7 linked regions of the Homo sapiens genome follow. The protein of the gene in region 6 purifies or fractionates together with the protein of the main gene of each other region. This does not show direct contact. Each region holds a gene or a part of one and is shown on either strand. Other genes may lie near its edges. The genes, in order: RTN4, PIGR, RAB5A, RAB5B, GNB1, SCAMP2 and RAB2A.

Region 1 (3,846 bases), on a different chromosome or scaffold from region 6:
GAGTTCTCCTTTTAAATTCTTGTGTAATATTCCGTTTGTTTTGCTCCTTTGCAATTAACTACAAACTTCTAAGTCCTAGAAAAGATTTCAAGTATTTATAGAGTGAGCAACGATCATTTTCCTAGTCAAATAGTATGGCAAAAATCACTGTTTTAAAAAGTTGTGGCATTAAACTATAAATCCTCCCTCCCCTCGCTTCCCACCCGCAATTATGAAAGAAAAGCATATGACAATGCCTACTGGGCTCAGCTTTTGGGCTAATTGAGTCTGACTGAGCCTTCTTAGCAGGTTCCTGTCTTTTGAAACCTCAAATCCCAAAAAGCTGTCTAATAATTTTACTTTTTTAGGGACTAAGACCAGGTATTTTCAGCAGAGGTTCTTACTTTTCTGTAATTGAGGCGCAACTATAATGTTCCAGAACACAATCTTAAATCTGAAAGTGAGAGGAAGAAAAAAAAAAAAACGGCCTGAGCTCCAGAAATAGCTGACCCAGAAGAACACTAAAATCTAGCTCTCAGGCTCATAGGCAGCTGTTAACATTCACATTTTGACAGCTTCCTTTCAGGTTTCTTGAGCTCTCAGAAAAATTAGAAGGAAGTGGGCTGGGGATATAGAGAGAGTCCAAACTACCAACTAATGAATGAATCTGAAGGAGACACAGAAGGGCAAGTAGAGTTTAGAGTTTGAGAGTGCAGGAAAGTTTTGAAATGGTCAGAACTGCCAGAGTAATTTCTGAGATCTTACTAAGCACTCTCCCACCGTTTGCCTTAAAGATACCCCTTCCCCCAAATTGAAACATCACAAATCTGCAGAGCTCTTTAATCAGGTGTGTTATACACAGTGAATTTAATTCTCTTATTGCCCTGGAAGAAAGATAAACCAGATGTGGCCCTTGCCCCTTTTCAGTAAGTATTTGTTAGATCTTCATTACATTTTAGGCCTCCTTCCTCCAGTCTCGATACTGTGCAATGGAGAGATAAGCTTTGACCTCTTCAGTTAATAAGTATTGGCTATAATGTTGCAAAGTATTTGCCATGGAATCGTGTAGAATTTGTTAAGTCCAAAATGAGAGCAGCCTGTTTGCTTCTTTAAAGTGTTTATTGACCTTATTCCTGCCATGTTACAAATCCATCATTTGTGGTGGATTCCCATTAATAATGGTTACTCTCTAGGTTAGTTCTTGCTGCCACCCCTTTCTCTCCTGGTGGTGTGTTCCCTGAATACACTTAACCACTATTTCTGTTTTGGGCCGCCGAAGTATTCAGTTTTCTCAACATAGCTGCAACATTTAAAAATTATATGATAGCACACAAAAGTGTACATTTCTGGCAACACTGGCCTGGAATATTTGCATGGCCACAGCGTATGGAGCAGGGTTGTAAGTGCCCCTTTGAGAGGAAGAATGCATATCACTGTGTGCCTCAGTTCTCTCCCAGCCTCTCACATACATGTATGTCACCTGCCTGGCCCTAAGGACATTTGAGACCTCCCTGTGTTCTTCTCTTTGTCTTGGGATAGCCTGGCTTTTAGGAAGTGTTCTCAAAGAGGCAAGTGACATTTGAGCCCCTACAGTGGCTCAGGTGTGAAGTCTTGGGCTTTTCCCCTGTGGACTTGGAGTGAAGCCTTGTCAGTGACTGTAATGACCAAATGAGGAGTTATTTTAGCTTGTGTTTGTTACTATCTTCTGTCATGTTAAGGGCATCTTCGTTGCTAGAGTAATTTCTTCTAAAATATGGAAGGTCAACACTTTTCCCTTTAGACTTGTGGATAGTGATGGATAAAAATAACTCTCTTACTCTATAGTAAACTTGCTCAAGTGCAAAAGTTATATTTAGCTTCAGCAATAGGAGTCTATAAAACTGTGAGAGAAAAGCCTTACTAACTGAAGTCATCCTTCAAACCTTTCTACCAGGGGTTCCAATAGCAATTGCTAAGAATACGGCAGCTTAAAAAAATTTTTTTTCAATTGACAGATATTAAGAATGCCTGATATTTACTGACTTGAACATTAGTTAAATTCAGTTAGGGTGACCAGAGTGTTGCTATTTGTAGAACTGTTGCTTGGTAGAGTCATCCAAAGTGTCTTCCTAAGCTGTAATAAATATGCTTACTAATGTTTGACTGCTTAATTAATGGTCAGTAAGCATTCAGTCAGAGTTCGTTTAATACATGGAGAAAGATATATGCTTTAGATCAAGGGTTAGCAAACCACTGCTTGTTTGGGCCACGGCCTGTTTTTGTATAGTGTGGGAGCTAAGAGTGGGTGGTGTACATTTTTAAAGGGTTATGACAACGACACAGAATAATATGAGACACAAACCCTATGTGGCCCATAAAACCTAAAATTCTACTGTCTGGCTCTTCACAGAGAAAGTTTGCTGATCCCCGCTTTAGATAATGGGGGTGCTCTACTACTCCCCTTTTCATTTATAGTGTTACATAAGCCTAAATAATCACTGTAGCTGGTGGCATCATGTTTGTTACCTACTAAGTAGGTCAAAGTGATTGCCAGACATACACATGAAGGCCTTGAATTAGAAAGCAAAGGAACTGATGATGACCAATGTTTAACAAAATTCAGACTGACTTTGTGCCTGATCCTTCAAAGGCTAGAGGTGATATTTTTGGTACCTGAAACGTAATTTCCCTGATAAGTACTCTTTGCCCAATTATTGCTTATCAGCTGAGATATTAATGTCTGAATTATTCAGCTCATATATCTTCAAGCACTCAACTAGTTCATACTTTGAAATCAATTCTAATAGACAATTCTCATAACACCTTTATAGTCTTCCCATTTAAAAGGTAAATGTTGTTAGGGCTGGAGGGGTAAGATGCACCCTTGGTATATTGTCTGATCTCAGCAGAATCAACTACTTGGTAGTGTAGTCCAGAGAAAATGGGTCAAATCTATTAATTATTTTAGGATTTTGAAATTCATAATTGAGACTCGTGACTTAATAGTGAACTGCTCATGGTACTTTACCCAGTCTTCAAGTTGTATGCCTTTTGTAGGTAGGCATTTAGATGGGATGCTTTTGAAAGCATAATTAAGAAACTTTACTTGAATTTTGTTTATAATGGGCTAATGTTATTTTCTTATAGTTTGCAGTGTTGATGTGGGTATTTACCTATGTTGGTGCCTTGTTTAATGGTCTGACACTACTGATTTTGGGTAAGTCTACAAAGCCATTGGGATGAAAAATTGCTGGAAAGATTGTGTGCCAGGAGCTTAGACATTTTAGTGGAGAATATTCTCATTGTATGAAAAGTAGGGGATGAAAATGTGGGCCGGGCGCGGTAGCTCATGCCTGTAATCCCAGCACTTTGGGAGGCCAAGGTGGGCGGATCACCTGGGGCCAGGAGTTCGAGACCAGCCTGGCTAACATGGTGAAACCCCATTTCTACTAAAAATAGAAAAAATTAGCTGGGCGTGGTGGCGCACGCCTGTAATCCCAGCTACTCCGGAGGCTGAGGCAGGAGAATCACTTGAGCCCAAGAGGCAGAGGTTGCAGTGAGCGGAGATCGTGCCATTGCACTCCAGGTTGGGCAACAAGAGTGAAACTCCATCTCAAAATAAGTTTGAGGTTGTATTCTCTTTAAATAAGTTGGTGATACTGCTTCCCGGTTTATTGAAATGCTACCTTAGTTGCTGAAGACAGCTCCTACTAACAAACAGTGATAAACCAGATAAAGGGTGGCTTTATATGATGGTGCAGTCATAAATCTAACCAGGGATACCTTTATTTTATGAAATCTCACTGTGATATGATTTGAAGCTAGAAATGGTTCCTAGCTCTAATAACTGCAGCCTCACACAGTTCATTCATTCCTCTGGAGTGGCTC
Region 2 (4,990 bases), on a different chromosome or scaffold from region 6:
TTTCTTTTATCAGTCAGATTATGGGTTTAGGGTTTGAAATTAAGCTACATCTGGAAGCCATCATCCTCATCAAACTAACACAGGAACAGAAAACCAAACACCACATGTTCTCACTCATAAATGGGAGCTGAACAATGAGAACACACGGACACAGGGAGGGGAACATTACACATCCGGGCCTGTTGGGGGGGGTGGGGGGAGGGAGAGCATTAGAACTAATAGCTAATGCATGTGGGGCTTAATACCTAGGTGGTGGGTTGACGGGTGCAGGAAACCATCATGGCACACGTTTACCTGTGTCACAAACCTGCACGTTCTGCACATGTAATCCTGGAACCTAAAACAAAATAAAAAAAGAAAATCTAAGTTTGCAAACCACAAAAAAAGAGAGAAATTAAGCTACATAAAGAAATTATGGGGTTTTTTTGCTTGCCATTGAAATCTGTGATTGTGTGTTAACACCCACAAGTGAGCCAGTGGTTAGCTAAAATAAGACCCAGGGCTCTGGCTGCCTTGTGTTTCTCCAGGGCTCTATTTCTCTATTTTTCCTTCCCCTTCTGGTGTTTGGCCTATAGGACTCTGTAGGGAGAGCCTGGGTCAGCCCTGCACAGGTAGGATGGGCAGCATTTCTGTGGGGGTTTGCAGTGAGGGGTCGGGGGGCCATACACGTGTGTGTTGGGGAGTGGGCTTCACTTTTGTCACAGGACTGCCACGATCATTTGGGGAACACCTGGGAGTCCCAACCAGGTCATGTTTTGGCATGGACTAACAGATAGGGAAGGAGGTGCTACTTCAGCTCAGCAGGTCAGCACCGTCCTTGCTATGGAGCCGAGCCCGGGTCCTAACAAGACTCTGAGGTCAGCCATGTTCAGGGGAGCCCAGAAGCAGCGAGTCTTTCATGACTCTGGGGAGTGAAACAGGAAGGGCCACAGTCCTGCCAGTTCCTGGAGCTCTGGGACTGGTAAAAGGGGCTTGGCAGGAGGTGTATAAGGGGCATTTTTGTCCAGGCTAAGTAACCTAGGGAGTCGGAGGGGATTCCAGAGCAACTGGGGATATGAGACCAAGGACTACGACAGCCACTCCTGCCACCTGTGCCCCATCAGATGATGTCAACTTCAAATCAAGCATTGGGCCAGGTATTTTAGAGCTAATACCGGGCTATATCCTCTACCTGTAGATTTGGTATTACCATCCCTCTTTTCCAGATGAAAAGAAATAGGAAGGTGACTTGCCAAAGGTCTTGCAGCTAGAAAGCGACAGAACAGCATCTTCACGCTTGACATTCTGTCCCTCATCCTGAAGCTGCAACGATGGAGGATTCCCAAGTAACAGAGTCTCCCCAAGGTCAAAGGAAACCAAATGGAGCCAGCCAGGAAGGCCAAAATGAAAGGAAAGCAAGGGATCTGTGAGAGTCACATGACCCTGGCTGGCCACGGTGCCTGTGGGAGAGTGGCCCTTTAAGAGCCCAGGTGTGGGTCAAACACTGAGCAGAGTTTCAGTTTTGGCAGCAGCGTCCAGTGCCCTGCCAGTAGCTCCTAGAGAGGCAGGGGTTACCAACTGGCCAGCAGGCTGTGTCCCTGAAGTCAGATCAACGGGAGAGAAGGAAGTGGCTAAAAGTAAGTGTTACTGCTCTGGGATCCCCAGACGGGATGCTATCTGGAAAGGGCTCGGGACGATGGCTCAGGTAACCCCCTCCATTCCCAACTCCCAGTCTCCTAGATAGTGGGGTGACAAGGACAAGGAGGCAGACTGTGTGACTGTGTGTGGCTGGGGAGTAAGCGTGCATATCGCAGTGGGACGAGTAGGGATGCACGTGTGTGGAAGCCCCCCATCCTTTTCTGAGAAATATCAGCAGGTGGGAAGGGACCTCTGTGGTCAGCATATGTAATTCTACTCTTTCAGCTTGGTCTGTGCCTGGATTTCCTAACTCCTCATAGTTGATTAACTGTGTGGCCTTAGACAAGCCACCTAACCTCTCTGATCCTCAGTTTCTTAATCTGTAAAACAAAGATAGAAATAACACCTATCATTCAGGGTCAATGTGGGTTCAAATGAGAAAACACAGGTGAAATAGCTTTGTAACCTCTAGAATGAAATAGGAATTGTTTCATATTTTTCAGTTTAGTTTAATTAATCAAGGATTTATTGAACACCAACAGACCTGGAATTAGATAGTGCGCATAAAGTATGGCACCTAGCAAGTCCTCTTCCATTCTTTGAGGTTTCCCACTTGTGGCTTTCTGGCAAAGGCATGTTCAGCTCCTTTTTTCTGGGCTTCCAAGAACCTCTGAAATCCTTTGCAATTCCACCTCGCTTTGCTCTAGCAGATTCCTGCCATGGGAGACATAAATGTGTGTCATCGCATCATCCTGCCCTTCCTAGAGGTAGAAAAAAAGAGGTCCTCACGGGATCACTGAGTGAGGTGGAGCTGAGCCCCACAGGCAGCATGATCAACTCCTGCTGTTCCTCCTGGCTCTGCAGCCAGCAGATCTCAGACATGGGCTTCCCCTCCCTTTGCCCATCCTGACAGCAGCCCAAGCCAGCAGTGGGACCGTCCGGCACAAGGGCAGCAGCGGGTCAAGCTCCATCCCTGACCCCCAGTTCCCTTTGTGCAATTGCCACAGTGCCTGGGGCCATTGAAGCTGCTCCTATTTTGTGCCATCACTTTCCCCCTTCACTAGGGGAATTATAGATCCTTTAACATCTGGAGAGGAGATGCCAATTTCAGGGGTTTAGGTAGAAGGCAGCTGTCTGGTGCCTGGACATAGGTCTTCCCAGAGCCAGATCTGGAATTCTCTCTCCATCCTTGTCCCGCCCCTGGATGTGCTAAAGTAGCAGAAAGAACACTGAGCCAGGAGTCAGGAAAGCAACTCTCTCTGCTTATCTCCTAGTGCCGCTAGACCTCTGTGGCTTTAGGTGATAAAAAATGGGGTCACACAGGCTTCCATTTAGTAAACCCACTTGCCCTGGGCTTTCACACCTTCGTCTCATTCTCCCTTGATACCAACGAGGAGGTAGGCAGGGTTGGTTTTGTGATGTCATTCCCTAGTTGAGGAAACCAAGACACCGTGAGTCTATGTGAGTGGTGTGAAGTCACCAGCAAGTTTGAACGATGAGGTTTTGGTACAGCCATTTTGATATGGTCATGAGGACATTTTGATGTCACCTAAAAAGCAAACTATCCAACTTAAAAAAAAATACCTATGCATTGTGCTCAGCAGAGACCTTCATCTATGTCTTGCCCTCTCTCTGGAGGGGCTGGGGCTGGAGTCCCAATGTCACTGGCATCGACACAGTATGGTGGAGTGGAAAGAGGCTTTGGCGTCAACATGCCTGGTTATACCCATGGTTATGTAACATATCCTACACATGGTAGGTGCTAAATAAATAGCAGCTAATATTTTCCAGGAAGAAATTTCTCTGTTGGCACCTACCTCTGGGTCCAGGTGTCTCTTCATTTTTTAATTTTTTATTTTTTTGAGATGGAATCTTGCCCTGTCACCCAGGCTGGAATGCAGTGGCGTGATCTTGGCTTACTGCAACCTCCACCTCCTGGGTTCCAGCGATTCTCCTACCTCAGCCTCCTGAGTAGCTGGGATTACAGACCCATGCCACCACACCCAGCTAACTTTTGCACTTTTAGTACAGATGGGGTTTTACCATGTTGGCCAGGCTGGTCTTGAACTCCTGACCTCATGATCCACCCACCTCAGCCTCCCAAGGTGCTGGGATTACAGGCGTGAGCCACTACGCCCGGCCCCAGGTGTCTCCTTATAAGAACTGCCTTTTCCGTGAAAGGCAGAGAGGAAAGAACTGAACAAATTCTCAGTTCGCTAAGATTGAATATCCTGCTTCTTCCTCTCTCCACTGCTTCCTCTCAATAGGAAGACCCTCTGAGGTAAAGCAGAGTGGCTAAGGGCCTATGCTCTTGATCTAGAATCCCATCTAAGTCACTTACCAACTGTGCAACCTTGGGCAAATGTCTCACCTCTCTGTGCCTCAATTATCTCACTCATGAAATGGGGTTGCCCATTTTGTCCCATCTCCTATGGTGGCTGTAAAAATGGAACACATTAACACATGTAAAGCACCTGGAAAGGACTCAGCGTACGTTCTTCTAGCCTAGCCCATAGTGCTTGTCTCCTCTCTTATCCACATGAGTCCAACCTAAGTAGCTCACTCTCCATCTCTCTATCTTCAAAGGATGTCCAGCAAGCAGACTTCTACTCTCATACCAAGTCCAGGGGACCTTTCTTCCTCTGAAAAAGAGGGAAACCTGAGATTAGATGGACAAAGGTTTGGACTCCACACCATGAGAGATGAAGTGCAGTCACTTTAACTGAACAGGAGCTAGTTAAATACATTTTATAAAAAGAAAAACTATCCTTCAGCACAGCTTACACTCCTGCCCCAATCCACAATTGTGGGGACATATGTTACACATATGTTGGGATACTAACTTAGTAAACTGAAAATGATCTAGCACATCCTAGCCTCAGCAGTGAAAAAACAACTGCTAGTTTAAGGACCAGAAAACGTGCCCTCATGCATGATATAATATCATATATATAAAACCCAATAAAGCAGGTCCCTTTGCTCATTTAAAGAGTGATAATGGGGTAGTGACCTCAAATTAGGATTCTGCTGTGGGTCTTGGGGTCGAGAATCCCTATAACCCTTAGATTTCCAACCTGTGTCATGAGGATAACAACATCTATCTCTTGGGTTGTTGTGCTGATGGATGAAGTCTTACAAGAAAAGAACCTAGCAAAGCATTTGGCACGTAGCAGGTGCCCAACATTATGTTCTTTTTCTTCCTTCCTTAAGCAAATCCTTTAAATCCAGCCCCAGCCACCCTGGGCTGGGGAGGTCTCCCGAGATTTGAATCCCCAGGTTTGGAAGAAAGTCTCTGGTTTTGAGAGGAAGGGGTCTGTAATGATTCTGAAAGCTCGAGGTCCTTTCAAATGCTACTAGAGAAATTGTGCTTCAA
Region 3 (4,465 bases), on a different chromosome or scaffold from region 6:
GGCGCAGTGGCTCACTACCTGTAATCCCAGCACTTTGGGAGGCCAAGGCGGGCTATCACCTGAGGTCAGGAGTTGGTCAGGAAACAAGCCGGGCCAACATGTCGAAACCCCGTCTCTACTAAAAATAGAAAAATTAGCTGGGTGTGGTGGTATGTGCCTGTAGTCCCAGCTACTTGGGAGGCTGAGGCAGGGGAATTGCTTGAACCCAGGAGGCAGAGGTTGTAGCGAGCTGAGATCGTGCCACTGCACTCCAGCCTGGGTGACAGAGCGAGACTCCGCCTCAAAAAAAAAAAAATCATAAATCAAAAACATACAACTTAGGATGGATATATCAGGATGTAGCCCCATTGTAAGTCAAGGAGCATCTGTATATCCAGCAGGTAAGTTTTTTTAATCAGTGGGAAGCACACTCCAGAGAACAGCCACTAGCTGTATAGAGCTTGGCAGAGGTAAAGCCGTAACTGCTGGTTGAGAGTGTTGTCTGAATTTGACAAGCCACACTCATCGGACTCAAATAAAATTAAGAAATAGTTTTTGGAGATGAGGTCTTCAGGATAATTCTATCTGGATTAGGTACAGCTACTGGTCAGTCAGATTAGGATTCATCAGCCCATAAAAGGAGAAAATGAGGTTGGTTGAGGTGGCTCACTCCTATAATCCCAATACTTTGAGAGGCCACGGTGGGATGATCTTCAAGGCCAGGAGTTCTAGACCAGCCTGGGCAACAGAGCAAGACCCTATCTCTACCAAAAAAAAAAAGCCAGGCATGGTGGTGCACACCCTGTAGTCTCAGCTACTTGGAAAGCTGAGGTGGGAGGATCTTTTGAGCCCAGGAGTTCAAGGCTGCAGTGAGCTATGATTGATGCACCACACTCTAACTTGGGCTACAGAGGGAGACCTTGTCTCCAAAATGAAAAGAAGTATGGCTGCAGGCTACATTCAAACTAAGATCACAACGAAGTGTTGAGTATGTATAAATGTATGTGGATATGTTTGTGTCTAAGTGTATTTCCACTAGCATGCTAAGGTATGTTTGTGTGTGAGTATGTTTCCTCCAGTATGCTAAGTTTTGACACATGCAGGCATCTAACTTGGGTGTTATCTGTCCTTCCTTTGCCCAAAGCATAGATTATAATTGTTCATTCTCAAAAATGCAACTCTTATCTATTTCCCCTTTATTTGAAGGCAGCTGATGGTTACTCTGCAAGGTGTAAGTTTCTCTTTTAAAAACTAAGCGGTCGAGCATGGTGGCTCATGCTTGCAGTCCCAGCACGTGGGAGTCTGAGGCGGAAGAGTTGCTTGAGCCCAAGAGTTCAAGACCAGCCTAGGCAACAAAGTGAGACCCCATCTCACTTTGGAACTCAGGACTGCAGTAAGCCATGATCATACCACTGCACTTAATCCTGGGTGACAGAGTGAGACCTTGTCTCTTAAAAAAAAAAAAAAAGAGAGCATGTATATAGATGTTTTAAGGCCAAAGGCTGTGGAAGCCAGGAAGGAAATAGTAGATATGATCTATCACAATTCGGGGTGATAATTAGTTGCACAGTAGAGGACAAGTTTTGTTGGGGTGATGATTGCAAAGGTATTTGTATCCTGACTTGTTCTAAAAAATGTTTGTGGCAGTCTAGAGAACGCTGATATGAGCTGAGCTTCTTTATAAACTTACTGGCTGGCCATCATCTTTATTGACTTAGATTTTATTTAATAGAAGTAATAATGAGGCCAGGTGCCATGGCTCACGCCTATAATCCCAACACTTTGGGAGGCTGAAGCAGGTGGATCACCTGAGGTCAGGAGTTCAAGATCAGCCTGGGCAACATGGTGAAACCCCGTCTCTACTAAAAAACAAAAATTAGCTGGGTGTGGTGGGGCATGCCTGTAATTCCAGCTACTCGAGAGGCCAAGGCACGAGAATCACTTGAACCCAGGAGGTGGAGGTTGCAGTGAACTGAGATCACGCCATTGCACTCCAGCCTAGGTGAGCCTGGGTGACAGAGTGAGACTACATCTCAAAAAAAAAAAAAAAAAAGAAGTAATAATGAGTATAAAATAAAATAGAACTTTTCTGGTATTATTGAGTGAATCGGTATAGAGAATTACATAAAGCACTAGTTAGGCTTAAGTTTTAATTGTATCTACAACCAGTCCCCATCTACCGTTCCCCCAACACAATTACCCCAGAAATCAAACTCCCTAAGACAGCAACCAATATTTTGGCATTCAATACTCAGTAAACATTTGAAAAGAATGAACATATGGTTATATGATACTTTGGGGGTAACCTAACTGGAAAGAAAAATTATAGATAAGCAGGTGAAACTGATATTAATATGAGTATTCAAATATTCTATTTATTTGATCATTTTCTTTCAGCTAAAAAATTGCCAAAGAATGAACCACAAAATCCAGGAGCAAATTCTGCCAGAGGAAGAGGAGTAGACCTTACCGAACCCACACAACCAACCAGGAATCAGTGTTGTAGTAACTAAACCTCTAGTTTGAACTAGCTGGAATAGTCTTCTGCTTCCTAAATGTTAATAACAATGGAATTGGAGCATTTAACCAGCCCAGTATGACTTCCAAAAGAAGAGACTTATGATAGAGTCAAGTTTCTAATACAGAATTATTTTAAGTGTTTTGAACTTAATTTTTAATAACATGCATGGGTCCCTCTCACTAATGTTTCAACAATAGGGAAAAATGAGAACTATGTGGACACTTGTTTCATTGGAAGGTTAGGGGGAATAATTTCTCATCACTAGGAATATAGACAAATGACTGTCTGGGCCCACACAGTTAACCAGCCCATTTCTCCACACTGGTACAGTAGTCACCTGTGAAAAAAAAATTGGAACTTACTAATTTGGGCTTTTCAAAAACATTCTTTGTTTAGAAGGAGATTCTAAAGTTATTTATGATGCTTAGCCATAGTATTCAGGCAAATGTTCATTTCTCCTGGTACCTGTATTTAAAATGTACATTCCACATTTTAATAAATTAACCACAAGAAAATAATCCCACATATACAAGGTCAGGGGTGGGGAAGAGTATTAATGGTATCTTAATTATACCCAGTCTGGTTTTTTTTTTTTAAATGGGGTAAAAATCAAATGCAACCCCATCTTGTTTTAGGAATTTTGAGAACTAATAAATGCACCTTAATGGTCAGTGTTCCTTTCAAACATGTGAGTTCTTTAACAAAAATGAAATAAACCAGGTGTCTGTGATTTCTAATTAATCACCGCTGGCCATTACACAGGTTTTGTTGTTTGGGGTGGGGAGGGGGCTTTTGTTCCCTTTTGACATAATATAGTCAATGCACTAACAATTATGTATATTCAAACTTGATTATTTTAAATTCGATCTTCAGCTGTACTGTAAATAGGGTACTGCATTGTAGTCTCCATATCTGTATTACTTTTCTGTAATATTTAAGAGTTGCTTAAAAGCATACAAAATGTACTGTTACTAAAACAGCTAATTATTTCTCTCTCCCCCTTTGACAGGAAGGGGCTTCAGTTGTTCCTCCATGGCTAGAACCATAATAAACAATGTACCCGTAATTTGTAACATAAAGTATTGCAATATGTTAGTAACAATCTTGCAGCCTTCCTTTCCAAAGTTCATTTTATTTTGATCAGTTCAGTATATTGCACTAATTATTTTAGGTATTTTCATTATATGAAAGCTACCATGTGTCAGAGATGATTTAATCTATTTAAGTGTTGGACTGCTAGGAGAACTTGTACATTTATGATAATGCAGAATTAGGAAAACGGTTCACCAGTGTTTAGTTTTATATTGAGGTGCTCAGGTTGGAATAAAGTGGTATAAAAAGCAAGTATCGGCTTTTCTCTTTTCCTTTTTTTTGGCATAAAACAGTGAATATATATAAATGATACTATATGACCTAGTATCCGCTTTTATATTTTCTTTACTATGTTCATAAAATTATTTGCATGGTATTGATGAATCATCCTAATAGCTGGATCATTGAAGAATCACTTTATATTTTGGTGCTCTGGATAATTGGAACTTTATTTTTTTATGTCAGAAGCTGATATTCACTTCCATTGAGAAATATTACCATAACTGTAATGTTGTCTCTGGAGCCAGCCAGTAAAGCAGCATTTACAAGTTCATGGCTAACATACTCAGCTGCGCCTTCATAGAAACTCTTAGTGTCTGATTCTTTTTCATTTGTTGCCACATCATTTACACTAGTTGGTCTGTCAGTTACTTTTTCACTGCAAGGTTTACGATGAGTCGTTTCTGCTGGAAATGTTTCTACATTCTCAGGGTTATAAATACAGTATTTAGAATAGTTTGAATCGGATAAATTTTCTTTGGAATTTGTAGTTGACACACGTACTTCAGATACAGATTTATACTGAAACAATACGTGGATATTACTCTGTGATTTAGTAAGGTTTGGTTCACTGGTTGAAAAAAGCAGAGGCCC
Region 4 (4,465 bases), on a different chromosome or scaffold from region 6:
AGTCAGAGTACAGCTGGGGCATTTCATACTACCACCTTATTAATTGAATTTGTCCTTACTAGCTTTAAAAGCCCTCTGTTGTACCCAGCCTTTGTACAGCGCCCATTGGAAACCTCGGTTTTTTCCCCCAAGGAACTTTTCTCACCTGCAAGCCAGTCCTAGAGACAGTTGTGTAGGAGTATGTGTGTGTGTTTTTAGACGGAGTTTCACTTTTGTCACCCAGGCTGGAGTGCAGTGGCATGATCTCGGCTCACTGCAACGTCTGCCTCCTAGGTTCACGCGATTCTCCTGCCTCAGCCTCCAGAGTAGCTGGGATTACAGGCGTGCACCACCACGACCAGCTAATTTTTGTATTATTAGTAGAGACGGGATTTGACCATGTTGGCCAGGCTGGACTCTAACTCCTGACCTCAGGTGATCCACGTGCCTCAGCCTCCCAAAGCACTGGGATTACAGGAGTGAGCCACCGCGCCTGGCCGTGTGTGCGTGTGTGTGTGTGTGTTTTAATCCTATCTAATTTTTCCAACAGTTTTTTGCATCCTAAGAGAGTTTAGGAGTAGAATTATCAATAAGGAATTTCATACATAGACCTGGAGTTGCAAAAATATATTTGGAGAAGAGAGCTTTCCCATTGCCCTTCAAGTCATACCTCATATCTTTTAAAATTTTTTTCCTGGACAATCCCTACTGCATAACATACCTCATATCTTCTAACTCTTACTTTACCTGGGAGCAAATATTGCTTATTGGTATGAATTTTACTTCTGAGAAGGAGGCATAGGGTAGAAGAAGCAAGCGTATAGTTTGCTCCCTAATCCTAAAGCATTTCAGATTGGAAGGTAACCAAAGTGTGAGACAATGAACTTATAATAAGGAAATGCAGCAGCCCTCTTGGAGGAAGGATACCATAAAACCCTACATGGTATACTCCCACTTCCGTTTTGGGAAAGATTTAGCCATTGACTCAACAGTAACTGAACTGAATAAGGAGCTACCCAGGTGAACAAAGTATGTGTACATTTCTGGGCAAGGTTGTAGCTTCTGTTCAGGGACAGTGGGTACCTTTTCAGAGTGTCTCCTGGTTCTGTGGTGTTATGGCTCCTTTTTTTAAACTTGTGTTTCTCAAGTCAGGAATTAATAGATAGTGGCCCAAAGCTTTTGACCGTTCAACATCAACTGAAAATTCAGCGAACTTTGTTTTTAGCTATAGTTGCCTCAGTGTTTGGGTGGGAGGGCCACATATTGGGTGTGATTAGGCCATCTGAGGCATAGTAACGGGTGACAGGAAAAGCAGTTAGCCCATGCGAGTTGCAATAGTACCTTGTGGGCAAGATCCCAAGGGGGCCCTCCATCCAAGGGAGATCACAGAGGAGCCAGGGAGAGAATTGATTCTGAGGCCTATTAAAAATATTCCCAAATGGGGCCGTGTGCGGTGGCATGCGCCTGTAATCCCAGCACTTTGGGAGGCTGAGGCGGGTGGATCACGAGGTCAGGAGATTGAGACCATCCTGGCTAACACGGTGAAACCCCGTCTCTACTAAACAAAATACAAAAAATTAGCTGGGCGTGGTGGTGGGCGCCTGTAGTCCCCCAGCTTCTCGGGAGGCTGAAGCAGGAGAATGGCGTGAACCTGGGAGGCAGAGCTTGCAGTGAGCCGAGATCGCGTCACTGCACTCCAGCCTGGGCGACTGAGCAAGACTCCGTCTCAGGAAAAAAAAAAAAGAACCCAAATGGAATTGAGTAAGATCTGTCCAGATGGTACAGAAAGGGAGGAGTTGATTGGGGGAGAGAAGTAGAATTACTTAGCCTTAATTTAGGGAGCATTTAATGAGCACCTACTAGGGATCAGGCAGCATGCTGTGCTCTGAAGATTTTAAGATAAACTCCCACTTTTAAAGAAGTTCATAGTTTAGCAGAGCAGACAGACACAATTTATATACTGTGATAATGTGATACATACTATTATAGAAATACAGTCTTTTTTTTTTTTTTTTGAGACGGATTCTTGCTTTGCTGTCCAGGCTGGAGTACAGTGGTGCAATCTGTGCTCACTGCAACCTCCGCCTCCCGGGCTCAAGCAATTCTCATGTCTCAGCCTCCTGGGTAACTGGGATTACAAGCCTGTGCCAACATGCCCAGCTAATTTTTGTATTTTTAGTAGAGACGGGGTTTCACCATATTGGCCAGGCTGGTCTCGAACTCCTAACCTCCAGTGATCCATCTGCCTTGGCCTCTCAAAGTGCTGGGATTACAGGTGTGCGCCACCACACCTGGCCAGAAATACAGTCTTAATACTGTGGGACCCTACGGGCCTCTAGAGAATGATTAATTCTGTGGGGGAGAGGGTGATTATGTAATTTCACTGAAGTAACATTTGAGCTTGGTCTTATGAGATATATAGAATTTTGCTAGGCAGACAAGTAGGGACGGGCATTCCAATCTTACCTAGGTCAATAATAGGGAGTTTGTACTACCATACTGATAAGAGGTAAGTATGCTTTTTGCCTCTTGGAGAAATATAAGGGAAAGGGTGCGAGATGTGGAAGGAATCTCATTTAATCCAATGACTCATTAGGTAACACTGGATCAACAAAATGAAGAGCTGAGCCAAGTGGTAGAACTCTCATTTCAAGATTTTGGTGACTTGGGTTTAAACAGAGTTGGAGAGGGAGATGAAGGTATTTACTGGTTTCTGCTCTATCTTCCCTACTTAGTAAAACTCTCACATTAATCGCAGGGCCCACCAAATTCTGCAAAAGTTACCGCTTGTTTTCCTATTGCCTCTCATTGAATTGCTTCTATTTCAACTGTCCTGGCAGGGTTTGGTCATAGACCTTCTAGAAAAGAGTAGTGATGAATTAATTCTTCTGTCAGAAAGATATGGGACTGCATCCCAGTTGCCAAGGAAGGCCTGGGTCTTCTTAATTTGTTTTTAGTCCCAAAGCAAGTACTTACCTAAACTGAATAGAGGCAGGAACTCTATCCAGTCTAAGCTCTCGATCCTGTCCTGGTGTTCTCTTTAGAGTTCAGCATTTCCTGCTTCCTTAAGAAGTATAGTGGTATAAGAGGCAGGAGTACCTGACTAGGAGTCCTACATTTACTGCTTAGCAGTTGGCTGTATGGTAACACTTGACAAGTTGACTAATTTTATTTTATTTTTTATTTATTTATTTATTTTTTGTGCAAATGGTGGCCTTTAATACCAAGAAAGACCATGACAAGTGACAGAACAGGAGCAAATTCCCTAGTGTAGTGCCGAGCTAGCCCTTTGCAGGACCCTAAAACCTGATCTAGTAACAGAATAAATCAGTGTATTTACATTTATGTTTGCCCTGAAAACCCAGGTAAGGTCTGAAGCCTGAGGCATCTCTCCTTCCTTTCCTCCTCCCTCTCTTCCTACCTCCTTGCCTTCGTTCACTTCCTCAATTCATTCCTCTCCCTTCTCCCTTCCTCTCTTTTCCTTCTTTTCCTTTCTGCTTTTCCCTTTTCTCCTTTTTCTCCTCATTCTCTTTACCATCTACCTATGTGTCCCTCCAAGCCCCTCTGCTATTTCTCCCCTGCTCACTCCCTCTGCTGTTGTCTCCCTCAGGTTCAGCTTCCGGGGTGGGGAGGCAAGAAAGGGTCCTCAGCTCAGGGAGCACTTGTTGGTGTTCTTTATGTCACAAGTTTTCAGGTCAGTACTGGGAGGCTTGTTGCCGTTTCCTGATCTCCGGCCTCCTGACTTGAGCAAGATGTCCCGGGCCAGGGAACTAAAAGCCTCATCCACATTCATACTGGATTTAGCACTAGTTTCGAAAAATCGGATTCCATGCTCTCGAGCCAACTTATCGGCCTGCTCCTTCTGCACCTTCCTCTTGGCCTCCATGTCACATTTGTTCCCTAGCAAGAGGTGCTCCACCCCAGCTGAGGCATTCTCCATGATGCTTTTCATCCAGTTCTGAATATTCTCGAAAGATTTCTCATCCGTGATGTCGTATGCTAGGATAATGCCCATGGCTCCACGGTAGTAGGCAGTAGTTATTGTCTTGAACCGCTCTTGGCCAGCTGTGTCCCAGACTTGTAGTTTGATCTTCTTCCCCTCTATATCCACAGTGCGGATCTTGAAATCAATTCCGATGGTGGAGATGTAAGTGTTGTTGAAGTTGTCCTCTGCAAAGCGAATGATCAGACAAGTCTTGCCCACCCCCGAGTCCCCGATCAGCAGCAACTTGAAGAGGTGGTCGTAGGCTTTGGCCATGGCGGACACCGGGGGAGCCGGGGAAGGGATGGGGCTATTTATTTATTTTTGAGACGGAATCGCTCTGTTGTCCAGGCTGGAGTGCAGTCGTGTGATCTCGGCTCACTGCTACCTCTGCCTCCCAGGTTCAAGCAATTCTCGTGCCTCAGCCTCCTGAGTAGCTGGGATTACAGGCACGCACCACCACACCCAGCTAATTTTTGTATTTTTAGTAGAGACAGGTTTTCA
Region 5 (4,465 bases), on a different chromosome or scaffold from region 6:
CAGCTACTTGGGAGGCTGAGGCAGGAGAATCGCTTGAACCCAGGAATCAGAGGTTGCAGTGAGCCAAGAATGCGCTGCTGCACTCCAGCCTGGGTGACATAGTGAGACTCTGTCTTTAAAAAAAAAAAAAAAAAAAAAGAAAAAAAGGCTGGGTGTGGTGGCTCACACCTGTAATCCCAGCACTTTGGGAGGCTGAGGTGGGTGGATCACGAGGTTAGGAGATCGAGACCATCCTGGCTAACACGGTGAAACCCTGTCTCTACTAAAAATACAAAAAAGAAATTAGCTGGGCGTGGTGGTGGGCGCCTGTAGTCCCAGCTACTCAGGAGGCTGAGGCAGGGGAATGGCGTGAACACCCAGGAGGCGGAGCGTGCAGTGAGCCGAGATCACGCCACCGCACTCCAGCCTGGGTGACAGAGCGAGACTCCGCCTCAAAAAAAATAATTAATTAATTAATTAAAAAATGATTGATAAAAAGTGAGTATCCAAAGCATATAATGTACCCCAGGTAAACAGCTTGTGTCACTTGAAGCTTATGAACAAGGACAGGTACCTGTGTGTCCTGCCAGCTCACGACTCACGCGCACGTTCCCCTCACGAGTTTTCAGATTGTAAATGGAGCAAATGTTATCCAGGCCACCGCAGGCCACATAGTTCCCAGAAGGGGCATATGCACAGGTCATGACCCAGGAGGAGCGCAGAGGGATGGCGTGGACCTAATGACAGAAAGACAGATGATGCAAACAACTTTATGTTCAAAAACAACACTGACACCAGGATTTTCTCATCTCCAACTTTCACTGCAAAGGAGGTAACAGAACAAAATAAGAGCCAAAATTATCTAGAGAGCGATTCCCATATGTGGCCACTCAGGTGAAGCATACTTAATGAGAAGTCCAGTGCTGCACATGGGATTCAAATTCAATCCACACAGTCCAGTTTTACTGAAGTCACAACTTATGATTAGGTGGAGTCTTAACAGTAGTGCTGCCCACTCATCAAAACCACATTAGGCCGGGTGCGGTCACTCACGCCTGTAATCCCAGCACTTTGGGAGGCTAAGTCGGGCAGATCACCTGAGGTCAGGAGTTCAAGACCAGCTTAGCCAACATGGTGAAACCCCATGTCTCTACTAAATATACCAAAATTAGCTGGGCGTGATGGCGCATGCCTGTAGTTTCAGCTACTTGAGTGACTGGGGCAGGAGAATCACTTGAACCCGGGAGGCGGAGGTTGCAGTGAGCTGAGATCACGCCACTGCACTCCAGCCTGGGCAACAGAGCGAGACTCCGTCTCAAAAGAAAACAAACAGGCCGGGTGCGGTGGCTCATGCCTGTAATCCTAGCACTTTGGGAGGCTAAGGCGGGTGGATCACCTGAGGTCAGGAATTCGAGACCAGCCTGGCCTCAAATTGGTGAAACCCTGTCTGTGCTAAAATACAAAAATTAGCTGGGTGTGGTGGTGGGCGCCTGTAATCCCAGCTACTCAAGGAGGCTGAAGCAGGAGAGTCGCTTGAACCAGGGGGGTGGAGGCTGCAGTGAGCAGAGATCACGCCACTGCACTCCAGCCAGGGCGGTAAGAGCAATGCTCCGTCTCAAAAACACAAAAAAACCCACACGTATTGGAAGGAAAACACTGCATTATCCTGTCAAATGGCTATGAACTCATCTGAAAACAAAAAATTTTTTTTTCGAGATGGAGTTTCGCTCTTGTTGCCCAGGTTTGAGTGCAGTGGCGTGATCTAGGCTCACTGCAACCTCTGCCTCCTGGGCTCAAGCAATTCTCCTGCTTCAGCCTCCTGAGTAGCTGGGATTACAGGCGCCTGCCACCACTCCTGGCTAATTTTTTGTATTTTTAGTAGAGACGAGGTTTCACCATGTTGGCTAGGCTGGTCTCAAACTCCTGACCTCAGGTGATCCACCTGCTTCAGCCTCCCAAAATGCTGGAATTACAGGTGTGAGCCACGGCGCCCAGCCGAAAACAAAAGATTTTTATGGAATAACCAAAATGGACATTCCTACAATCTACCCTGCCACATCTCTCCCACTGTTTTAGATCTGCTGTAATTAATGCAATCATTTATACACATTTAGTATTCTTTAGTAAAATAAACTGAATTACATCTTTTACATACATGTTTGGACCAATGACAATACTTTTTATTCAAAACAATACACTTTGGATTAAGTCTTGAAAATAACATAAATTACACTTTAAAGTATGATGTCTTTCAGATGATCTCTTCTAAAAACTTGTAACTGAATGAAAAGTGATACTTCTGCACTCTATAAATAAAACATGAAACTTCCCAGACTCTGCTAAAACTGGAATTGAGGTCTCCTAGAAACACAGAAGGTCCTTAGCTCCCACCAGCTTGGTAAGGAGATGACGGACAACAGCACAACTGTGCCTGGTCCAGAGGAAGAGACCGTGACAGGTGGCACGTGACTCAGCTTCTATCTCACCTGCGCAACTTCACTACTAACAAACAGAGCTTGCCGCTGCTGCCTTCCCTATCCTGTATTACGTGATTTAACAAAATGAATCCAGAGCTTAAAACCCTGTTTCCTGGGTTGGTTTTTCAAGGAAGGGAATCCTCCAGTCCCTACCTTGTTGGTGGTGTAGCTGTCCCAGATGATAAGTTTACCATCCTGCGAGGCACTGACGAGAAGCCTGGAGGGACAGACAAAAGCAAACCTATCAGTACCGCACAACACAGAAAGTGTACAAGAGCAACAGACTAAAACCCAGACTCTGGTGGCTTATGTGCTCCCATGTTACATGTGCTTCAGACAAAGCCACTTATTTATAAGAAAAAAAATCTCTGGTCGGGCACAGTTGCTCACGTTTGTAATCCCAGCACTTTGGGAGGCTGAGGTGGGCAGATCACATGAGGTCAGGAGTTCAAGACCAGCCTGGCCAGCATGGCGAAACCCTGTCTCTATTAAAAATACAAAAATTAGCCGGGCATGGTAGTGCGTCTCTGTAATCCCAGCTACTCGGGAGGCTGAGGCAGAAGAATCGCTTGAACCTAGGAAGCGGAGGTTACAGTGAGCCACAATCATGCCACTGGACACCAGCCTGGGCAACAGAGTGAGACTCTGTTTCAAGAAAGAAAGAAAGAAAGGAAAGGAAGGCTCTAAATGTCAGACCAACTTCAAAGCATGAACAAAAACACTGTCACAGACCACAGTTGAGAGTGGAGATGCCTGGCCCCAACCGAATGCAGGCCACATCACCCCTGGCACCCATTCCCTTTGTCAGCTGAGACAGGCTGACATCATTTCATAAGTGTTTCTGTTTGGTTTCATTACAAATCAAATTAGAGGCTCATGTCTTTAATCCCAACACTTTGGGAGGCCAAGGTAGGTGGATCACAGGAGTTTGAGACCAGCATGGCCTCATGCTAGCATGGTAAAATCCCGTCTCCACTACAAAAACACAAAAAAATAGCTGGGTATGGTAGTGCATGCCTGTAATCCTAGCTACTCAGGAGGCTGAGGTGGGAAAACTGCTTGAACCCAGGAGGCGGGGGTTGCAGTGAGCCAAGATTGCGCCACTGCACTCTAGCCTGGGCAACAGAGCGAGATCCTGACTGAAAAAAAAAAAAAAAAAAAAAAAAAAAAAACAAACAGAAAGAACAAACCACTTTTAGACATTCCAAATTCATGAAACATTTCTCACCCAAAATACCCCATGAAATTTCCCAGACTGAGCTAAAATTGGAATCAAGGTCTCCTAGAAACCAAAGGAGGCGTTCCCTCCTCACCTGCTTGGTAAACAACAGCACCACTGCGCATGGTCCGGGAGCAGAGACCAGTAACTATCACGAATTTTTTCTTTTTTTCTTTTTTTTTTTTGAGACGGAGTCTCGCTCCGTGGCCCAGGCTGCAGTGCAGTGGCGCCATCTCGGCTCACTGCAAGCTCCGCCTCCGGGGTTCATGCCATTCTCCTGCCCCAGTCTCCCGAGTAGCTGGGACTACAGGCGCCCACCATCACGCCCAGCTAATTCTTTTTGTATTTTTAGCAGAGACAGGGTCTCACCATGTTAGCCAGGATGGTCTCGATCTCCTGACCTCGTGATCTGCCCACCTCAGCCTCCCAAAGTGCTGGGATTACAGGCGGGAGCCACCACGCCCGGCCTCTTTTTTTTGTTTTTGAGATGGAGTTTTGCTTTTGTTGCCCAGGCTGGAGTGCAATGGTGCGTCGGCTCACCGCAACCTCCACTTCCCAGATTTGAGCAATTTTCCTGCCTCAGCCTCCAAAGTAGCTGGGATTACAGACACGCGCCACCACAGCCAGCTAATTTTGTATTTTTAGTAGAGACGGGGTTTCTCCACGTTAATCAGGCTGGTCTCGAACTCCCGACCCTCAGGTGATCCGCCCACCTCGGCCTCCCAACGTTTTGGTATTACAAGCGTTGAGCCACTGCGCCCGACCATGAATTTTTTCATAACTATTTCCT
Region 6 (4,033 bases):
CTCTTCTCCAAGTGGCTGCTGTGTCCTGACCATCACCTTGGCATCTCCCCACAGCACAGGGAGCCCTGTGAGCCAGAAGCCCTTGGCCTGTGAGGCCAGACCTCCGTGAAGGCTGACAGGCCCACACTACCCCATTCACAAGGGGAATCTTCTGGTTATGTGAGGTCTGAAAGGGAGGATGTGGTTGCTGCCTTCACAGAGTCAGAAGTAGCACCGGGCTGGGTGCTATGGCTCTCACCTGTAATCCCAGCACTTTGGGAGGCTGAGGCAGGAGGATCGCTTGAGCCCAAGAGTTCAAGACCAACCTGGGCAACAGAGGGAGGCCCTGTCTCCATAAAAAATAAAAAAAGGCCAGGTTCGTGCCTGTAATCCCAGCACTTTGGGAGGCCAAGGAAGGCAGATCACTTGAGGTCAGGAGTTTGAGACCAGCCTGGCCAACATGGAGAAACCTTGCTCTACTAAAAATACAAAAATTAGCTGCGCGTGGTTGCACACGCCTGCAATCCCAGCTACTCGGGAGACTGAGGCAGGAGAATCACTTGAACCTGGAAGGTGCAGGCTGCAGTGAGCCGAGATCATGCCATTGTACTCCAGCCTAGGTGACAGGGCGAGACTCCAACTCAAAAAAAAAAAAAATTAGCTGGCTGTGGTCATACATGCCTATGCTCCCAGCTACTTGGGATGCTGAGGTAGGAGGATCACTTGAGCCCGTGAGGTTCAAGGCTGCAGTGAGCTGTGATCACGCCACGGCACTCCAGCCTGAGCAACAGAGTGAGACCCTGTCTCCAAAAAAAAAAAAAAAAGAAAAGAAAAAAGAAAAAGGGCTGGGCACAGTGGCTCAAGCCCGTAATCCCAACACTTTGGGAGGCCAAGATGGGCGGATCACGAGGTCAGCAGATCGAGACCATCCTGGCTAACACAGTGAAACCCCATCTCTACTAAAAATACAAAAAATGAGCCAGGCATGGTGGCAGGCACCTACATAGTCCCAGTTACTCGGGAGGCTGAGGCAGGAGAATGGCGTGAACCTGGGAGGCGGAGCTTGCAGTGAGCAGAGATCGCGGCACTGCACTCCAGTCTGGGCAACAGAGACTCCATCTCAAAAAATAATTAATTAAAAAGGTAGCACTGGGCCGGGCCTTTTTCTGCTGCTTTGGGGGTGGGGAGTATGGAAAGCGTGGCTGCTCACTCCTGAGGACCCACCTTCTGTGAAGGAGGATCACTGGCCAACTTGCTGTCACCTGTCTGAGCCCCATGTCCTCATCTGTAAAAGGGATATCCTCATATTTCTTGACATCAAAACTTACTACAAAGCTACAGTCACTAAAATAGTGTAGGACTGGCATAAACATAGACATATAGATCAATAGATCAATGGAATAGAACTGAGATTCCAGAAATAAACCCATACACCTATTGTCAGTTAATTTTTTTTTTTTTTTTTTTTTTTGAGATTGAGTCTTGCTCTGTAGCCCAGGCTGGAGAACAGTGGTGTGATCCCGGCTCACTGCAACCTCCACCTCCCGGGTTCAAGTGATTCTTCTGCCTCAGCCTCCCAAGTAGCTGGGATTATAGGCACCTACCAATGCGCCTGGCCAATTTTTGTACTCTCTAGAAACAAGGTTTTGCCATGTTGGCCAGGCTGGTCTCAAACTCCTTCCTGACCTCAGGTGATCCACCCGCCTTGGCCTCCCAAAGTGCTGGGATTACAGGCATGAGCCACCGCACCCAGCCAACTCAAGCCTTCTGATTCCCAGTACAGGTGCAAACGGCAGTCATGAATCACAGCTTTTCTACCAGGGTCTTACTTAGGTAAGGAGTAATGAAATTGGGTCACTGGTCAAAAGGGACCAGATTAACAACAGCAGGGCAAGAAGCATGAGGGGTGGTGGGAGGGCAGCGTGCACTTGTTTGGAGGGCAAGGGGAGGCAACCTTTCTCTCCCCACTGCTCTGGACTTGCCAGCTCTGCCAGAGGGAGGGGACCAAAATAGCACCGCCCTTCCAGGCTCAGGCTGTCAGCCAAGTGCCAGTCTGACCTTTCTGCAATGCTCCCTGTGCACTGGGGCAGAAAGGAAAACATCAGCCATCAGCTTTTCTTTTGAGATTAATTTTGAGCTGAGGACTGAGGTACCCTGGAAACTCAAACCAGCCGTATGCTCAAAGAGGGCAGCCAGAAGAAGCCTGTCCAGGGGAGGTGAGGGAACCGTCTCCTTAAGTTACAAGGCATCTGGAAAAAGTTGCAGCTCAGAGTCTGCAAAGGCCTGGGCATCCATCAGCTTTCAGGAGGGTGTGGCAGGAGAAAAGGAAGAGGCTGCAATCCAGTGCAGGACACTGTCATGGTAGCCTAAAGAGTCAAGCCAAGTTCACCCACAATACCCTGGAAAGTGGAGAGCAAGGGAAGATAGTGTCTTTTTTTTTTTTTTTTGATACAGGATCTCACTCTGTCACCCAGGCTGGTGTCCAGTGGTGCAATCATGGCTCACTGCAGCCTCAACCTCCTGGGCTCAAGTGATCCTCCTGCTTCAGCCTCCCAAGTACCTGGGACTATAGGTGCATGCCACTGCAACAGGCTAATTTTTTTAATTTTTGGTAGAGACAAGGTCTTCCTGTGTTTCCTAGGCTGTCTCGAACTCCTGGGCTTGAGCAATCTGCCTGCCTCGGCCTCCCAAAGTACTGGGATTCCAGGCATGAGCCACTGCACCTGACCAATAGTGAGTGTCTTTTGATGCCTTTAGTATCAAGGAGAAAAAAAAAGTGAGTGGCTACTGATGAAGAACTGGAGAGAAGGCCCAAAGCAGATCCGAGCTGGCCCACTCACCCACTCCCCGCCATGGGAAAAGCAGGGCACTGGCGGGGCTCTGTGGGAGCTAGAAAACAGGGCAAGAGAGGCTGAGTCCCATATCCAAAGCCTAATTCCCTCTGTGATGCCCAGGTCTCACCTGTCCCCCAGGCCAGGGATGCCAACCAACTGGATGATGTAGATCCCTATTTGACAAAAAAATACAAAGAAGAACACAAAGAAGCTGAAAGAGTTGTCGGACCTGTGGAGAGAGAGGGAAATAAGTCACAAGAGGGCTTGGGCTGTGTTCCTCAGCATCCTTACTTGGTGTGACATCCCTCCTCACTAGGAGCCAGGAGGCAGCATGGGCAAGAGACAGAGCTCCAGGGGCCCAGCCATACCACCCGTAAGGACACGCACACACCCCCCACCATAATCAAGAAGAGCTTGCCTTTCACTGCCTTCCAATTTAAGGGGTCAGTGCTTGACCCCTTCCTCAAAGAGCTGATAAAGTTGCTCCCCCAAAGGACAATATAAAGAGCCTAACACTCCTGCAGTGAGCCAAGATCACGCCACTGCACTCCAGCCTGGGTGACAGAGTAAGACTCTGTCTCAGAAAAATAAGTAAATAAAAAACAAAGAACCTAACACTCCATCTCCTGGAGTACTTGCGTTTCATAACAGGCAAGAAAAACTAAGCCAATCTCTTAATAATAAGTAAATCTCTATATAATAAGTAAAATCTCTAATAATAAGTAAAACTAAGTAAATCTCTTAATAATAAAACTGTATGAGGCCAAGAATTTGAGACCAGCCTAGCCAACATGGCAAAACCCTGTCTCTACTAAAAACACAAAAATTAGCTGGGCGTGGTGGTGTGCGCCTGTAATCCCAGCTACTTGGGAGGCTGAGACAGGAGACTCACTTGAACCTGGGAGGCGGAGGTTGCAGTGAGCCGAGACTGCGCCATTGCACTCCAGCCTGGGTAACAGACTGAGATTCTGTCTCAAAAAAACAAAACAGGCTGGGCACGGTGGTTCACACTCGTAATCCCAGCACTTTGGGAGGCCGAGACAGGTGGATCACTTGAGGTCACAAGTTCAAGACCAGCCTGGCCAACATGGGGAAACCCCATCGCTACTAAAAATACAAAAATTAGCCAGGTGTGATTGTGTGTGCCTGTAAGCCCAGCTACTCCGGAGGCTGAGGCAGGAGAATCATTTGAACCCAGGAGGAGGAGGTTGCAGTGAGCC
Region 7 (4,044 bases), on a different chromosome or scaffold from region 6:
AATTTCTAATTACAACCAATGCTGCAGAAAGTAACCTTGTGCATATGGAGCTTTTGCTTTATTGGAGAATTATCATTTGGGCGGATTCCTACAAGTGGGATTTCTGGGCCAACAGCAAGTGTACATGTAATTTTATTAGGTATTGCCAAGTTCCCCTCCAGAAAGGTAGTTCCAGTTTGCACTTCTACCAACACCACACAAAGGTGCCTCACCAATACAATGTGGCGTTGTATTTTACATTTCTTCCAGTCTCATAGGTGAGAAATGGCATCTGAGCTTTAATTTGCATTTGTTTGAATTTTTAAAAATAAATTTTATTGTGTTTAAAAGTATACCTGTTATGGGATACACATAAATAGAAGGTTACTAGAGTGAAGCAAATTAATGTATCCATCACTCACATTTGAATTAAAAATGCATTTTAGGGACACTTTGTATGTTTTTTGTAAATTGCTCATTTTCCTCCATTTTTCTATCAGGAGTTTGGTGCTTTGTCCTTCAATGTTTAAGAATTGGCCTCATAATTTTGTAAAACTAATTAATACTAATATATAGACTGGCACTTAGTTTTTGGCCAGGCATGGTGGCTCACACCTGTAACCCCAGCACTTTGGGAGGCTGAGGTGGGCAGATGACCTAAGGTCAGGAGTCTGAGACCAGCCTGGCCAACATGGCAAAACCCCGTCTCTACTAAAAATACAAAGTAGCCGGGCGTGGTGGCAGGGACCTCTAATCCCAGCTACTTGGGAGGCTGAGGCATGAGAATCACTTGAACCTGGGGAGGTGGAGGTCACAGTGAGCCAAGACGGCGCCACTGCACTCCAGCCTGGGGGATTAGAGTGAGACCTGTCTCCCAAAATAAACAAAATAAATAAAATGAAGTTCTCTGTCGTGACTTCAACCAAAAAATAATAATACCTAGTACATCCGAATGCAGTATGAGATGATCTACTGTGGCGTTAGGCTTTATTTTAATGTAAACATAAAGCACACATCTAAACTCTGAGAAATACAGGTAGATATGCTGGTTTACCTATTTGTATAGTCAATTCCTGTTTATTATGAAACAGCGTTATCTCTTTGTGTATCTTTTAGCTCATATAGTCAAACCCCATGCTGCCAACCTCAGGACTAAATAAACTGAGATGGGGCTTTACTATCTATGACAGAATAAATGTTTAAGGTGTTGCAAAGCCAGACATGAATCAGTTTTTCTGAGTGATTGGAAACATTTTGGTACGATTTATATCCTAACTCTTTTTGACCATTAGCAGATAAATAGGGACTATTTTCCTGCTAACAGGCTATTTTAAAATATCATTAAAAACAAATTGTATGCAGTTGTATATCCTGTTTCAGTTGTATATCTAATTATATGCCACATTCTTTCAAAAAATTGGCTTTTCATTCAGTTGTCTTAAATTTGCAAGACGAATGGTAACAATGTCTTTATGAAGATCACAATTTTGAATGTTACATGTTGAGTGAGACATTGAAAGCTGTGTTTATTTTTTTCAGTGACTGATTTTCTATGTCCATAGATGCTATAAAAACTGATCGAAGATCAACTAAAAATTCAATTACAATATTACAAATTCAACTGCAGGTACCAATATTACATTATTTGACAGGGATAATAAAATGAGCAAAGACTGGAAATCACAGACAATAACATTGCTTTCTCAATTAACAGAAAGGATTCATAACATATTCCTTAACGGTAGATGTGATTTGTAGAGAATGTGGAAAAGAACTATTGAGAAGTCCACCTGCTGCCCCAGACTGAGGCACATTAGGGTGGTTGTGGGAGGAGTTATATTTGAGGGTTCCATTTTTCCTTAGGGTATTAAAATGCATGTCCTGGTTTGTTGTTTATTTGCCATTAAGTTCTCTTCTTCAAATAAAAGAATTAGGGGAGAAAGTATGGAAAAGAAACGCACTAAACTTCTGGAAAAATTAACAGAAGCTTAAAAATAACAATTTCCAAAGAATCATTCTCTTCTTGGTATAGAGCAGTACCTGTCCTAGTTGCCTTAACTTTTTGTACTCACTGGTAAAGACAGTGATTAGTAAGACCAGTGAATTTGATACAGCCACTTGAAAGAAAAAAAGGCTGTACTACAAATACCCATGAAAACAGATTTTCTCTCACCCTTCCCTCTGCCCTCAAGGAGACAGTTAAAACAAAACTATGACAGCATTTGGTGATTTCCCACAAGAGTACTGTCAAACCTTTGAGAGAGTACTGCTGAATCTTCAGGGAAGACCTGTAGAAAGTTGAAGGCCATGAGCGAAATGAAAGTAGTTAGTTTCAGAGTTAGAACTTCTTTATGCTTTCTTTCAGGCATAAGTGCTTTTGTGCTAGTTCAGGAGAAAACACTTGCTTACACTGCTTACACCATCAACAAAAATAATTTCAGTATGGTGAGATTTGTCGCATTTTAGCAAAATTTTTAAAAAGGGTTGAGTGTTAACCATTCTGACCCTTTTAAAAAACATGCTTAAACCCATGTAAAAGCTGTAAGTGGACTAAAAATACATTAAAAAAGAGGTGGTCATAATAAAAAAAAAGAACACTTTTATACATAGGATTTTATTTTGCACTGCTGTAACAATTTCATTATAGACCAAGGGAGAAAAAGAAAAAAAGGATAAAACCACCACACTGAGTAAATTACTAAAGCTTTTCTACTTTGTAACAGGATTTTCCATCTGATAGATTTATTGTCATATCCCCTTCAAAACAGACAAGATGCTCACCATATTTTAAAGATTATAGAGGTTGCCACTGAAAGAAAAATTTTACACAGTCACTGTACATCAAGGTTGAAAAACTGTCCTGCATGAAAAATATACTTAGAAATCATGTGAATAAAAGAAAAAAGAAAACATTATTGTGTTTAAGGAAAGATTAAAGTCCTCATAATGTGCCATCTAAATGTGGATACTCATTCTTCTTGGAGTCGCTAAGATGTAGAAATTTCTTGCTTCTGCCCTTTTCACTCATTATACTGTGTTTTTTCCCAACAGTATTCATTAAGGCAAACAAATCCCTTTCTGAAGAGGTCTTAAGGAAATTGTGGACAAAGCAAACTTTTGGCATTAAAACAGGTTAACATATACAAAGCCTTTGTAATATACATTAAGCATATTTTTCTTGGACTAGTGACAAGAAAAGATGAACATGCTTGTTAACAATGTCAAAAAGTTTAAAATTCAGTGTCCAAGCAATTCCTAACAATGCTTCTGTAGCTTTAAGCTCTAAACAGTATAGAATTTATGCAAATGCATTAAAGAATTCAAGCTTGGCAAATTACACCCAAGCAGGTTATTAAACTATATATACAGAAAGTAAATGATAAATACAGAATTAAAAGAGTCCTTCTGTTTCCTTATAGCCGTGAAAATTGACAAAGTTTCTGAGGACAGTTCTATAATATTAAACATTAGGTAACCACAGATGTTGGGAAACCTAACTACACAAACCGATTTAAAATACTCAAGATGACTTTGTAGTGTTTAATACAATTCAGTTCGTAGTTAAGGGCACAAGACAACATTTAACAAAAATAATCACATCAATTGACCTAGAAATCAAATGCAAATAGATATGAATACAATCTCCAAAATCTGTCTTTTAAGTGAACATTAACCATTTATTCAAAGTTATACAAGAATTTGACGGATTAAAGTCTTCTGTGACATAAAGCCATTTCAAATAGTTTCATGTCTCAGCTGAGCAGGAGGAGAGGGGGTGAAAGAATAAGTGAGTAGGCCCCGTTGGGCAGCTAGACAGTAAAAACAGACTCAACAGCAGCCGCCCCCAGCCTGCTGTCCTCCCTGATTGCCTGCATGTGTTGCATTGGTAGCAGCATGCTGAGGGCCAATTTTAATGCCATTTGCCTGAAATAAAAGAGAACAGAACAATAAATATGACCAGACAATATAGTTTAACTAATTCTTAAAAAACTCATTTAATTCTTTATGATACAATTTTATCAAACAACTGAGAAAAATACAGCAAGTAGATTTTAGCAACAATTA

The links.
Region 1: the proteins of SCAMP2 (region 6) and RTN4 purify together in Homo sapiens (affinity purification with mass spectrometry; 2 studies listed by BioGRID and IntAct, with this or other methods). This does not show direct contact.
Region 2: the proteins of SCAMP2 (region 6) and PIGR purify together in Homo sapiens (affinity purification with mass spectrometry; one large-scale study listed by BioGRID and IntAct). This does not show direct contact.
Region 3: the proteins of SCAMP2 (region 6) and RAB5A purify together in Homo sapiens (affinity purification with mass spectrometry; one large-scale study listed by BioGRID and IntAct). This does not show direct contact.
Region 4: the proteins of SCAMP2 (region 6) and RAB5B purify together in Homo sapiens (affinity purification with mass spectrometry; one large-scale study listed by BioGRID and IntAct). This does not show direct contact.
Region 5: the proteins of SCAMP2 (region 6) and GNB1 purify together in Homo sapiens (affinity purification with mass spectrometry; one large-scale study listed by BioGRID and IntAct). This does not show direct contact.
Region 7: the proteins of SCAMP2 (region 6) and RAB2A purify together in Homo sapiens (affinity purification with mass spectrometry; one large-scale study listed by BioGRID and IntAct). This does not show direct contact.

The regions. Positions count from the first base shown.
Region 1 is NC_000002.12:54,974,024-54,977,869, reverse strand, and holds part of RTN4 (reticulon-4), read left to right. Parts: intron 1-3,105; coding exon 3,106-3,175; intron 3,176-3,846. UniProt on the Homo sapiens protein: Required to induce the formation and stabilization of endoplasmic reticulum (ER) tubules. They regulate membrane morphogenesis in the ER by promoting tubular ER production.
Region 2 is NC_000001.11:206,942,962-206,947,951, reverse strand, and holds the start of PIGR (polymeric immunoglobulin receptor precursor), read left to right. Parts: upstream 1-1,485; 5' UTR 1,486-1,616; exon of another isoform or gene 1,617-1,684; intron 1,685-4,990.
Region 3 is NC_000003.12:19,981,332-19,985,796, forward strand, and holds the end of RAB5A (ras-related protein Rab-5A), read left to right. Parts: intron 1-2,376; coding exon 2,377-2,492; 3' UTR 2,493-3,844; downstream 3,845-4,465. Other genes in the region: PP2D1 (protein phosphatase 2C-like domain-containing protein 1), read right to left, coding at 4,049-4,465. UniProt on the Homo sapiens protein: The small GTPases Rab are key regulators of intracellular membrane trafficking, from the formation of transport vesicles to their fusion with membranes.
Region 4 is NC_000012.12:55,976,797-55,981,261, forward strand, and holds part of RAB5B (ras-related protein Rab-5B), read left to right. Parts: intron 1-2,575; coding exon of another isoform or gene 2,576-2,678; intron 2,679-4,465. UniProt on the Homo sapiens protein: The small GTPases Rab are key regulators of intracellular membrane trafficking, from the formation of transport vesicles to their fusion with membranes.
Region 5 is NC_000001.11:1,803,866-1,808,330, forward strand, and holds part of GNB1 (guanine nucleotide-binding protein G(I)/G(S)/G(T) subunit beta-1), read right to left. Parts: intron 2,674-4,465; coding exon 2,610-2,673; intron 717-2,609; coding exon 554-716; intron 1-553. UniProt on the Homo sapiens protein: Guanine nucleotide-binding proteins (G proteins) are involved as a modulator or transducer in various transmembrane signaling systems.
Region 6 is NC_000015.10:74,845,660-74,849,692, forward strand, and holds part of SCAMP2 (secretory carrier-associated membrane protein 2), read right to left. Parts: intron 3,043-4,033; coding exon 2,941-3,042; intron 1-2,940. UniProt on the Homo sapiens protein: Functions in post-Golgi recycling pathways. Acts as a recycling carrier to the cell surface.
Region 7 is NC_000008.11:60,620,533-60,624,576, reverse strand, and holds the end of RAB2A (ras-related protein Rab-2A), read right to left. Parts: intron 3,904-4,044; coding exon 3,808-3,903; 3' UTR 933-3,807; downstream 1-932.